Homo sapiens: one gene and its partner. The protein of the gene in region 1 interacts with the protein of each later gene in a biochemical or structural test. Each region holds a gene or a part of one and is shown on either strand. Other genes may lie near its edges.

Region 1 (7,292 bases):
ACGGGTGCCCGCCAACACACCCAGCTAATTTTTTTTTTATTTTTAGTAGAGACGGGGTTTCACCTTGTTAACCAGGATGGTCTCGATCTCCTGACCTCGTGATCCGCCCGCCTCAGCCTTCCAAAGTGCTGGGGTTGTTTCTTCTTTTATCTGTTGATGGACATTTGAGTTGTTTCCGGTTTTTGGCTGTTATTAATAATGCTACTTTTTGGGAGGCTGAGGTGGGCAGATCATGAGGTCAGGAGATTGAGACTATCCTGGCTAACACGGTGAAACCCCATCTCTACTAAAAATACAAAAAATTAGCCCAGTGTGGCGGTGTGCGCATGTAGTCCCAGCTACTTGGGAGGCTGAGGCAGGAAAATTGCTTGAACCCGGGAGGTGGAGGTTGCAGTGAGCCGAGATCTTGCCACTGCACTCCAGCCTGGGTGATAGAGCGAGACTCCGTCTCAAAAAAAAAAAAAAAAAAAGTAATGCTACTGTGAAAATGTTTATGTACAAGTTTTTAGGTAGACAGAGGTTTTATTTTCTCTTGGGAAAATACGCATGTGTGGAATTGCTGAGTAGCAGAAAGTGTCTTACTTGTAGAAAGTGTATGACTTGGCCAGGCGCGGTGGCTCCTACCTGTAATTCTAGCACTTTGGGAGACTGAGGCAGGTGGATTGCCTGAGCTCAGGAGCTCAAGACCAGCCTGGGCAACATGGTAAAACCCCATCTCTACTAAAATACAAAAAATTAGCCGGGTGTGGTGGCAGGTGCCTGTAGTCCCAGCTACTCAGGAGGCTGAGGCACGAGAATTACTTGAATGTGGGAGGCAGAGGTTGCAGTAAGCTGAGATGACACCACTGCACTCCAGCCTGGGTCACAGAGTGAGACTCTGTCTCCAAAAAAAAAAAAAGTGTGTGACTCATCACCTGCCATACTGATGCCATGAAGATTGTACTGTTGACCATTTCTACCAACAAGGTATGAGGATTCCAGCTGCTCTGGGTTCTCTTCAGCACTCAGCGTTGCCAGTCTCTCTGATTTCAGGGAGTGTATCTCGTTGTGTCCTTCTCTGCGTTTCCCGGATGCCAGTTGCAGTTGTTTTCCATGTATGAAGACTTGCAGCCCAGCGTATGGTCTGTTTTGTTGAACATTCCGCGTGCACTTGAGAAAAATGTCTGTTCTGTTGTTGGGTAGATTGTTCTCTAAATGTCACGTAAGTAAGGTGGGTGATAGTGCTGTTTAGGTTTCAGCGATTTTCTCTTACTTGTTCTATCAGTTCCTGAAACAGGAGTGTCGAAGTTTTCAACCGTGTCTCCTTTCATTTCTCTCAGCTTCTTCTGTGCTTATTTTGAAGCTCTGTAGGTTGGTGTGTATACTTACAGAATTGTTAAGTCTTCATGATGAATTGATCCTTTTATTATCATGAAACATTCTGTTTATCTCTGATGGTAATGCTTGTTCTGACATTTACTTTGTCTGATATTAACAGAGCCACTCCAGCTCTTTTATGATTTGTGATTGGTTGGAATATCTTTTTCCTTTTGCTTACGTTTAACCTAGCTATGTCTTTTTGTTTGTTTTTGTTTTTTAAGAGACAGGGTTTTGGGCCAGGTGCGGTGGGCTCACACCTGTAATCCCATCACTTTGGGAGGCCGAGGTGGGTGGATCACCTGAGGTCAGGAGTTCGAGACCAGCCTGGCCAACATGGTGAAACCCCGTCTCTACTAAAAATACAAAAATTAGCCAGGCGTGGTGACGCGTGCCTGTAATTCCAGCTACTTGGGAATCTGAGGGAGGAGAATAGCCTGAACCCGGGAGGTGGAGGTTGCAGTGAGCTGAGATCACGCCACTGCACTCCAGCCTGGGGGACAGAGCAAGACTCTGTCTCAAAAAAAAAGAAAAAAAAGAGACGGGTTTTGCTCTGTTGCCCAGGCTGGAGTGCAATAGTAGGATCATAGCTCATTGCCGCCTTGAAATTCTGGCTTCAAATGATCCTCCCACCTTGGTCTCCCAAAGTGCTGGGAAAACAGGCATGAGCCACCACACCTGGCCGGCCTCAATGTCATGTTGATGTTCACTTTTACAGTAAATGTTTCCTATGTTTTTCCCTAGAATGGATGATGAACTTGTTGTTGGACATAGTGCAAGATCAGACATCTCCAGCTTCCCTTGTACATCTGGCTTTTAAATTTCTTTACATCATCACCAAGGTAACATTTCCATAGCACTTCAGAGTTGACAGATACTTTTGTAATATACTTGGTCCAGAGGTTACCCTCCAAAATGTTATTTCTCAAGAAAGATAGTTCTTAGACACAAGTTGTGGGTTTAATTCTGTCCCTTTTTACTGTATGTTGGGGATCAGAATTTAGTGATGTGGGCTCTTTGGCTGAAACAGTGTCAGGATATTCAGCATCTTGCATTTGAATAGATTGAAGCACTGTGTAGCTAGGAAGGGAATGGGGTGGAGATGAGACTAAATCAGAAAAACTTCTTACAAGGAGAAAGCAGGCCGGGTGCGGTGGCTCATGCCTGTAATCCCAGCACTTTGGGAGGCTGAGGCAGGTGGATCACCTGTGGTCAGGAGTTCGAGATGAGCCTGGCCAACATGGTGAAACCCCGTCTCTACTAAAAATACAAAAATTAGCTGGGCTTGGTGGCACATGACTGTAATCCCAGCTGCTTGGGAGGCTGAGGCGGGAGAATGGCTTGAACCTGAGAGGCAGAGGTTGCAGTGAGCCGAGATCATGCTGTTGCACTCCAGCCTGAGTGACAGAGCGAGACTCTGTGGAAATGGAAGTGCTTCTCACACTTTAATGTGCAGATGAATTTCCTGGGAATTTTGCTGTGCTATAGATTTTGAGCAAGTAGGTCTAGGCGGGGGTCTCATAGTCTGCTTTTCTTACAAGCTTGCGGGTGTCTGTGCTCATAGTCTGCTTTTCTTACAAGCTTGCGGGTGTCTGTGCTCATAGTCTGCTTTTCTTACAAGCTTGCGGGTGTCTGTGCTCATAGTCTGCTTTTCTTACAAGCTTGCGGGTGTCTGTGCTCATAGTCTGCTTTTCTTACAAGCTTGCGGGTGTCTGTGCTCATAGTCTGCTTTTCTTACAAGCTTGCGGGTGTCTGTGCTCATAGTCTGCTTTTCTTACAAGCTTGCGGGTGTCTGTGCTCATAGTCTGCTTTTCTTACAAGCTTGCGGGTGTCTGCTCATAGTCTGCTTTTCTTACAAGCTTGCGGGTGTCTGCTCATAGTCTGCTTTTCTTACAAGCTTGCGGGTGTCTGTGCTCATAGTCTGCTTTTCTTACAAGCTTGCGGGTGTCTGCTCATAGTCTGCTTTTCTTACAAGCTTGCGGGTGTCTGTGCTCATAGTCTGCTTTTCTTACAAGCTTGCGGGTGTCTGTGCTCATAGTCTGCTTTTCTTACAAGCTTGCGGGTGTCTGTGCTCATAGTCTGCTTTTCTTACAAGCTTGCGGGTGTCTGTGCTCATAGTCTGCTTTTCTTACAAGCTTGCGGGTGTCTGCTCATAGTCTGCTTTTCTTACAAGCTTGCGGGTGTCTGTGCTCATAGTCTGCTTTTCTTACAAGCTTGCGGGTGTCTGTGTGCTGGCCCAGAGGCTCACTGTTGGCAGTTTTGACTATGGAAGTACTCACAGCCGTCTCAGGGTGGGGCTTGGGGTTCGTAGTGGCGAGGCGCATTTCTGTTGTCTGGCGGGAAAGTCCTTGGCCAGCGAGAGGACACTGCGGGTGAGCTGCCAAGGACACGCAGGCCTCTGTAGCTCCTCTGTTTGAGGTTAGGATTTCTCCGGAAGGCGTGGTATCACTGAGCTTCAGGGAAGTGTTAATGAATTTGGGCCCTTGCGGTTTGTAGGCACTTATTCCTCATAAATGTCAGAGGACAGTCATATAAATGAACATATTTAATGACTGATTCCGTAAATATGGTAATGAATAACACTACCAATTTAGGAAGGAAATCTTTTTTTTTGAGAGATGGGGTCTTGCTCTGTCACTCAGGCTAGAGTGCAGTGATGCAGTCAGCTCACTGCAGCCTCGAACTCTTGGTCTCAAATGATTCTCCCTCCTGCCTCATCCTCTCAGACTACAGGCATGTGCCACCATCCTGTCTAATTTTTAATTTTTTATGTTGCCCAGGCTAGTCTCCAACTCTTGGTCTCAAGCTATTCTTTTGCCTCGGCCTCCCAAAGTGCTGGGATTACGGGTGTGAGCCATCGCTCTTGGCCATGGGTAGCTTTCTTGGGGTGACTACGGTCTTACTAAATTGTGTCACTGTAATGTCACAGAATTCTCTTTGATCAGTGGGTCGCGTAGCTGGTGATTTTTGATGAAAGGGTAGAAAGGCAATTTTGCTGCTCTCTGTATTTTTAAATGTTATAATTCAGCATCTCTTTATTTGATAGGTTCGAGGCTATAAAACATTTCTTCGTTTATTTCCTCATGAAGTTGCCGATGTAGAGCCTGTTTTAGATTTGGTCACAATTCAGAATCCCAAGGACCATGAAGTGAGTGTCTCTGCCTCCCCCCTCGTCTCCAGCCCTCCGTGCCTGTCCTTCCTCCCTGCTTGCCCCACCCTGCTGCACCTTCCCCTTCCTGTTTCTTTCATTTTATCTCCCTTTGTTTTGTGTCACTCCTCTTTTCTTTCTTTTCTTTTCACTTTTCCTTTACTTCTTGTACAAGTTGCTTTAAATTATTTTCGTTTAAAATAGCCCCTTTATAAAAAAAATTATGCCTAGGTGTAGTTTAACAATAAATCCGTCATTGTTTCTATGTTTTTTTAACTGTGTAAGTATAACTGTGTTGGGTTCCCAAGACCACCCCCAGGTTTGATACTTCCTGAGCGGGACTCACAGCACTCAGCATAGAGTCCTCCTTTTGGCTGTCACTTGTTATGGCAAAATAATACACAGCAAAATCAGCAAAGGGAAAAGGCACATGGGTGGGGTCTGGGGAGAACCAGGCGGGAGCTCCCGGGGTCCTCCAGTTGGGTCCCACAGGGCCTGTGTCATTCCCCCAGCAGTGAGATGTGACCACACCTGTGAGGTGTCTATCAGAGAAGCACGTTTGAGACTTGGTGCCCAGAGCTTTCACTGGGGTCTGGCCACATGGACACCTCTGCCTGGCACGAAACGAAATTCCAGACCCCCAGCAGGAAAGCAGGTGCCAGCGTAAAGCACACGGTTTGTGCAGATTGAGCCAGCGAGGGACCTCATCAGGCAGGGCTTGGTGGGAACCCTGCTGGTGTCCAGGTCCCTGGATACCAGCCCAGGGCCGGCCTCGTCAGGGGCCTTGCCTCAGACGGCAGCGGGGCCTGCTATGCTCGCTGTCTTCTGCGTGGTATGTATTTGGAGGAGCACACGGTTTATAACCGTGCAGTGCGGTGGCTTGTCTCGGCGTGGATGTGACTGATGAGCGCTGTGGGGCATTTCCCTGCTGCCCTGCACTCCGTGCCCTTCTTTCCCTAGTACTTCTAGCGCCCCCCAGTGGAATGATTGCAGGGACAAATTGGGATGTTTTTTACTAATTACTGAAAATAAGGGTACTCCTTTTTTATTAGAAGTTGATAATTGTTTTCTTTATTCTTTTTTTTTTAAAAAGACAGAGTTTCACTCTTCTTGCCCAGGTTGGAGAGCAATGGCACAATCTTGGCTCACTGCAACCTCTGTCTCCCAGGTTCAAGCGATTCTCCTGTGTCAGCCTCCTGAGTAGCTGGGATTACAGGCATGTGTCATCACGCCAGGGTAATTTTGTATTTTTAGTAGAAACAGGGTTTCTCCATGTTGGTCAGGCTGGTTTAGGACTCTTGACCTCGGCCAGGCACGGTGGCTCGTGCCTGTAATCCCAGCAGTTTGGGAGGCCAAGGTGGGCGGATCACGAGGTCAGGAGATCGAGACCATCCTGGCTAACACGGTGCAACCCTGTGTCTACAAAAAATACAAAAATTAGCCTAGCATGGTGGCAAACGCCTGTAGTCCCAGCTACTCAGAAGGCTGAGGCAGGAGAATGGCGTGAACCCGGAAGGTGGAGCTTGCAGTGAGCGAGGTTGCGCCACTGCACTCCAGCCTGGGCAACAGAGCGAGACTCCATCTCAAAAAAAAAAAAAGGAACTCCTGACCTCAGGTGATCCGCTCGTCTCGGCCTCCCAAAGTGTTGGGATTACAGGTGTGAACCACCACACCTGGCCTTTTTTCTTTATTCTTAGGTGTTTTTACTTTTTATCTGTTTTTCACTTTTTCAAAAGGCCAGTTTGTATGTGGAGAGGTGCCAGCGAAGAGAAGCTGCTATACTGATGTATTATGATTTTTCTTTGTTCATTTTGATGTCTCTCTTGTCTGCTGAGCTAAGTTACGGCGGTAGGTGTGTGTGGTGGGGATTCCGGGGGGGATGTGGCGAGGAGTTGGTGAACGGCTTGCATTTCTGGCCCTGAGGGTGATGGCATTTGAATGGCTTTCATAGGCATTGGGTGGGCATGGAGGGCAGTGACTTTGAGTAGATTGTGGCCAGTGGCCTGTGATTTTCAAGCAAGACTCATTCTTCCCGTGGTTTAATTTTTTAGGCTTGGGAAACCCGCTACATGCTTTTGCTCTGGCTCTCCGTGACCTGCCTGATCCCTTTTGATTTTTCTCGCCTTGACGGGAACCTCCTCACCCAGCCTGGGCAAGCACGAATGTCCATAATGGACCGTATTCTCCAAATAGCAGAGGTAAATATCATGCAGATAATTAGCTGCTAATTAGTACTCACTTTCATGTTCATGCTGTCTTGATGTTAGTGGTTTACTCGGTAAGCTTCTGATATGTATTCAACTGCTGTTTTTTTCAGTGGGGTAAAATCCCATAGGATAACTTATTTTGAAATTGTGATAATTCATGTAGGGGTCAGGTTGAGTTAGCAAATCTCATTTCTTTGTAGATGATGCAAATACTCTGTTGAGGGTAATCATGGCAGATAAGGAAGGGTTTAGTGGCATGGTGAGAGAGAATAAGGACCCATTTTACATTTAGTTCTTAACGTTATATAAATAATAGATGCTCATTTGTAGGAGAACTAGAAAATAAAGATAAGCAAGAAAAATACTAAATTTAAATTTATGAAATTCTAGTGCCAAGAGATAAGTTGTTTATTTTCTCCGAACTTTTCCTGATGTAAATATTATGCATATAAACACAGCTTATTGTATTAGTTATCTATTGGATCATAACTAATTACCCCAAACTTGAGTGTTTGACACACATTTATCCTCTTGTAGTTTCTGTGGGTCGGGAGTCTGGCATGGCTGAGCTGGGTCCTTTG
Region 2 (3,459 bases), on another chromosome or scaffold:
GACAATTCCAGTGGGCTTTTTTTTCCTCTCAAAAAAAAAAAAAGAAAAAGAAAAAGAGGAAGAAGCAGCTTTGCTGAGTTCATTTATTTACTGACCCGTCCCTTGCATTCCCTCCATGGTTTTGAAACCACAGACAGTGTTTGCTGGTGCTGTCAGTGATTTTTACCGTCACTAGCCCAGCCAGGCTTCAGTCTGTCCGACAGGAAGCTGCTGGGTGGGGGTGGGGGGAGAAAAGGCAGATAATTAAACCATCTCATCGTCTTGCAGGTCGGAGACTACGTATGTAATCCTCACTCTTTGGACAGAAAAAAAAAAAAAAGTCTTTCTTGCAGACAAGTCACTACAGAAACATACCCCATCCCACCCACCCCTGCCTCTGCCCCAGCCAGCCACACAGAGAAGCAAATTCTTATGACTTTTGACTGTAATGACATCTGGAATGTAAGGAGAGGTGGGAGGTTTAATTCCAGAAAAATTACAAGGTCCTTAAAAAGCTCTCACATCGAGGGCTCAGGCTAGCGTAAACAGGCTTTCTCCAGCTCAGTGGAGCAGTGAGCAGCCGACTCTGAGATTAGCTGGCTTCTCCACGGCCGTCCTATAGACAGGATTTCTAAAGCTCAAAGAATTCTGTGTTTAAACGATCACAATAGGCCGCTGCTATCAGATTTTAGAAATAAATGCAGCTTTACCATGAACCTGCTCCACTGAGAAAAGCCAGGCAGATCGATTTTTAGATCAATTTTTACAGTGCTGGCAACTTGGTGGTGTGGGATGCTCCTGGATGGAGAGGGTTTGCTGCTGGGGAGGACATGGGTGTGTGTGTGACTGCAGGGGTCGTGTCCAAGGAATCAAGAGTCACCCCAGCTGCTGGGCTCCTCTGCCTCTCTGCAGCAGAATGTCCGTCCTCTGTTGATTGATTGGAGAGGAATAGCAGAACATTTCTCCTGCCCCTCGTTGCAAAACGAGCTTGTTTCCCTGAACCTCAGAAATCCTCAGCTTCAAACATGGGGAAACAGGCCAGAGCATTGCCCGGCTCCTGAATTAAACTCTGTTCTGGTGCCTGAGCTCAGGGGTTTTCAGAGAATGAATAAGAGACTGTCCAGTGACTGGTGGGTCCCTGGGGGCCAGCTGCCTTCTCATCCTGGGAGGTGGCCCTTCCCAAGCCCATCAGGGCGTGTGAGCAGACTGAAGGGGCCGCTGCAGCCCCTGGCCCTCAATACCCAGCTGCTTCTGGCTAAGAGTGCAGCAGAGACTGAGGCATAGCCAGCTTCAAAAGCGATCTGACATGAAAGTCATTAACAAAGCCAGCCGTGAAAAGGTGCCCCAGAGTTGCTGTGGACAGACCTGTAAGGACTTGCAAAACAAAAGAAAGTGAGGGGTTTTTTTAACCTCAGAGCTAGCTGCTCTCTGCAGCCTCCTCCACTGGCTTCTCTGGCTCACCCAAGCTCTCCCTTACAGAGGCAACACAGAATTATAAGGAATCAGAAATCCCCCTTCTACCAGGCTGCAAATGTGGCTCTAGCACTTGCAAATTGTTTTTTCTTCCGAATAGTTCAGCAGGGACAAGTTATCTGAGGGGCAAAATGCCTGCTTGGAGGTCTGCAATTTTGGAACACTGCAGTATGGAACTTTGGCATTGGAGGGTCTGTAAAATATTTTTGTTCTTTTACCACCAACTTAGGGGACTGTTTTAAAGAGCCATCCCAAGGCCTCTCCTAGCAGGCAGAAGCCACTCCTCTGATAACGGCCTCTGTAAATGTTCTGATTTGCTCTCAGCTGCAGAGACACAGAGACACTGCAGATGTCACACGCTTTCATCTTCCCTTTGAGCCCTTTTGAACCCTCCTGGGGCTCTGGGGTAGATGAGAGAAGCCTGAAAAAGGCAGAGTTTGAAAGCTCCCATTTAAAAACAAAATACTTTTTAAAGCCCTCTTGCCTCTTCCCTGCCCACTCCTGCCCCCTGACCAGAAGACAGAATTTGAAGCTGGAAAGGGAAGACCCCTTTTCCCCTCCTCCTGTCCCCAGTGAGTCTTAGCGAGACTTTTGCCCTGCGCACAATTGCATCTGAATGTGCGGGGGAGAGGGCTGGGGGCCGGAGGGCAGGCAAGGCCTGGGGGGTGCTCGTGATATGTGCTCAAGCCAGTTGTGGGAAAAACTCGAGTCCTCCCCTCCTCCCGACCTACCCCGTGTGGCTGCTTTTGGCTGGATTCCCTGCACCCAGTGCAACACACCCTTTCCCCTTCACTCTCCCTTGGTTACTATGGAAACAAGGGTGTCATTGATGTGGGCTGAGCTGGGGAACATGTCGGTGCACAGCTGAAAGTCAGCGATTATGCCGGCGGTTAGAAATGTGCCAGGGTTAAAGGAGTCCGCAGCTCCCACGGCTGCTGGGAGGACATGGTCCTGCCCCCTTCCTTCCTCCCTCCCTCCGTCTCCACTTCTCTCTCCTTGCTTTTGACAAATTTCTTTATTCCCCTCTGGACTAAAGTAGTGGCTATTTTTGTGCCACTCTGCGCCCCACCCTCACTGTTGGCCGCTCCTTATCCGGCCTGGCCTGGAGGGTGACACCATGTCACCCTCACCAGGACTCGTCTCTCCATTCCCGTCAGAGTTTGCTTTGATTTCCCTTTCCTTTCCTTCTCGGGGACCAGTTCTTACTTCCTTTTATTTTTAGCTCTGCACTCCATGTGGTTTCAGGGTTCAGTCTGATCCATCAAAAGGTTCTTTTTTTATAATCCCTTTTGAAAATGATAATCAAAGGAAGAGATGTGGTGTTTGGTCATGTGGAAAACTCAATGTATAATTTAGACGTCTGTCAAAAATCCGACAAATAAAATTTAGCTGGAACGAAGGCAGCCTGGAATGTGTTGTGTTCTTTGCTGAAGCTCAGAGAGGGCCTGAAATGTGTTTGTCCTTTCAGGGGTTAGCTTTCTTCAAGAGGTTTTTTCCAGAAGGATATATATATAAAATAGGATACCAACAATAGCAATAATAGCCCTTCATTAAGCCCCTCCTACGTGCCGGGCACTTCAGATACATCGTGGTGAGCATTAGTCCCCCTTTGCAGCAGAGGACATTGAGACATTTGCCCCAGTTAAGGAATTTGCCTGAAATCACAGAGCCTTTAAGTGCAGGTGGGGCCTGGAGCCTGGGTCTCAATGCTCAGCAAGCTGCCGCCTCTGGAGAACAAAAACAGTCAATGGCAAGGCCGGATCACGCCTGTAATCCCAGCACTTTCAGAGGCCAAGGCAGGTAGATCTCCTGAAGTCAGGAGTTCAAGACGAGCCTGACCAACATGGTGAAATCCCGTCTCTACTAAAAATACAAAATTAGCCGGGCGTGGTGGCACGTGCCTGTAATCCCAGCTGCTTGGGAGGCTGAGGCAGGAGAATTGCTTGAACCCAGGAGTCAGAGGTTGCAGTGAGCTGAGATCGTGCCATTGCACTCCAGCCTGGGCAA

The links.
Region 2: the proteins of TBCD (region 1) and ARL3 form a complex in vitro, tested with the Homo sapiens proteins (one study listed by IntAct).

The regions. Positions count from the first base shown.
Region 1 is NC_000017.11:82,761,865-82,769,156, forward strand, and holds part of TBCD (tubulin-specific chaperone D), read left to right. Parts: intron 1-2,100; coding exon 2,101-2,198; intron 2,199-4,402; coding exon 4,403-4,504; intron 4,505-6,555; coding exon 6,556-6,702; intron 6,703-7,292.
Region 2 is NC_000010.11:102,673,123-102,676,581, reverse strand, and holds the end of ARL3 (ADP-ribosylation factor-like protein 3), read left to right. Parts: 3' UTR 1-2,851; downstream 2,852-3,459. UniProt on the Homo sapiens protein: Small GTP-binding protein which cycles between an inactive GDP-bound and an active GTP-bound form, and the rate of cycling is regulated by guanine nucleotide exchange factors (GEF) and GTPase-activating proteins (GAP).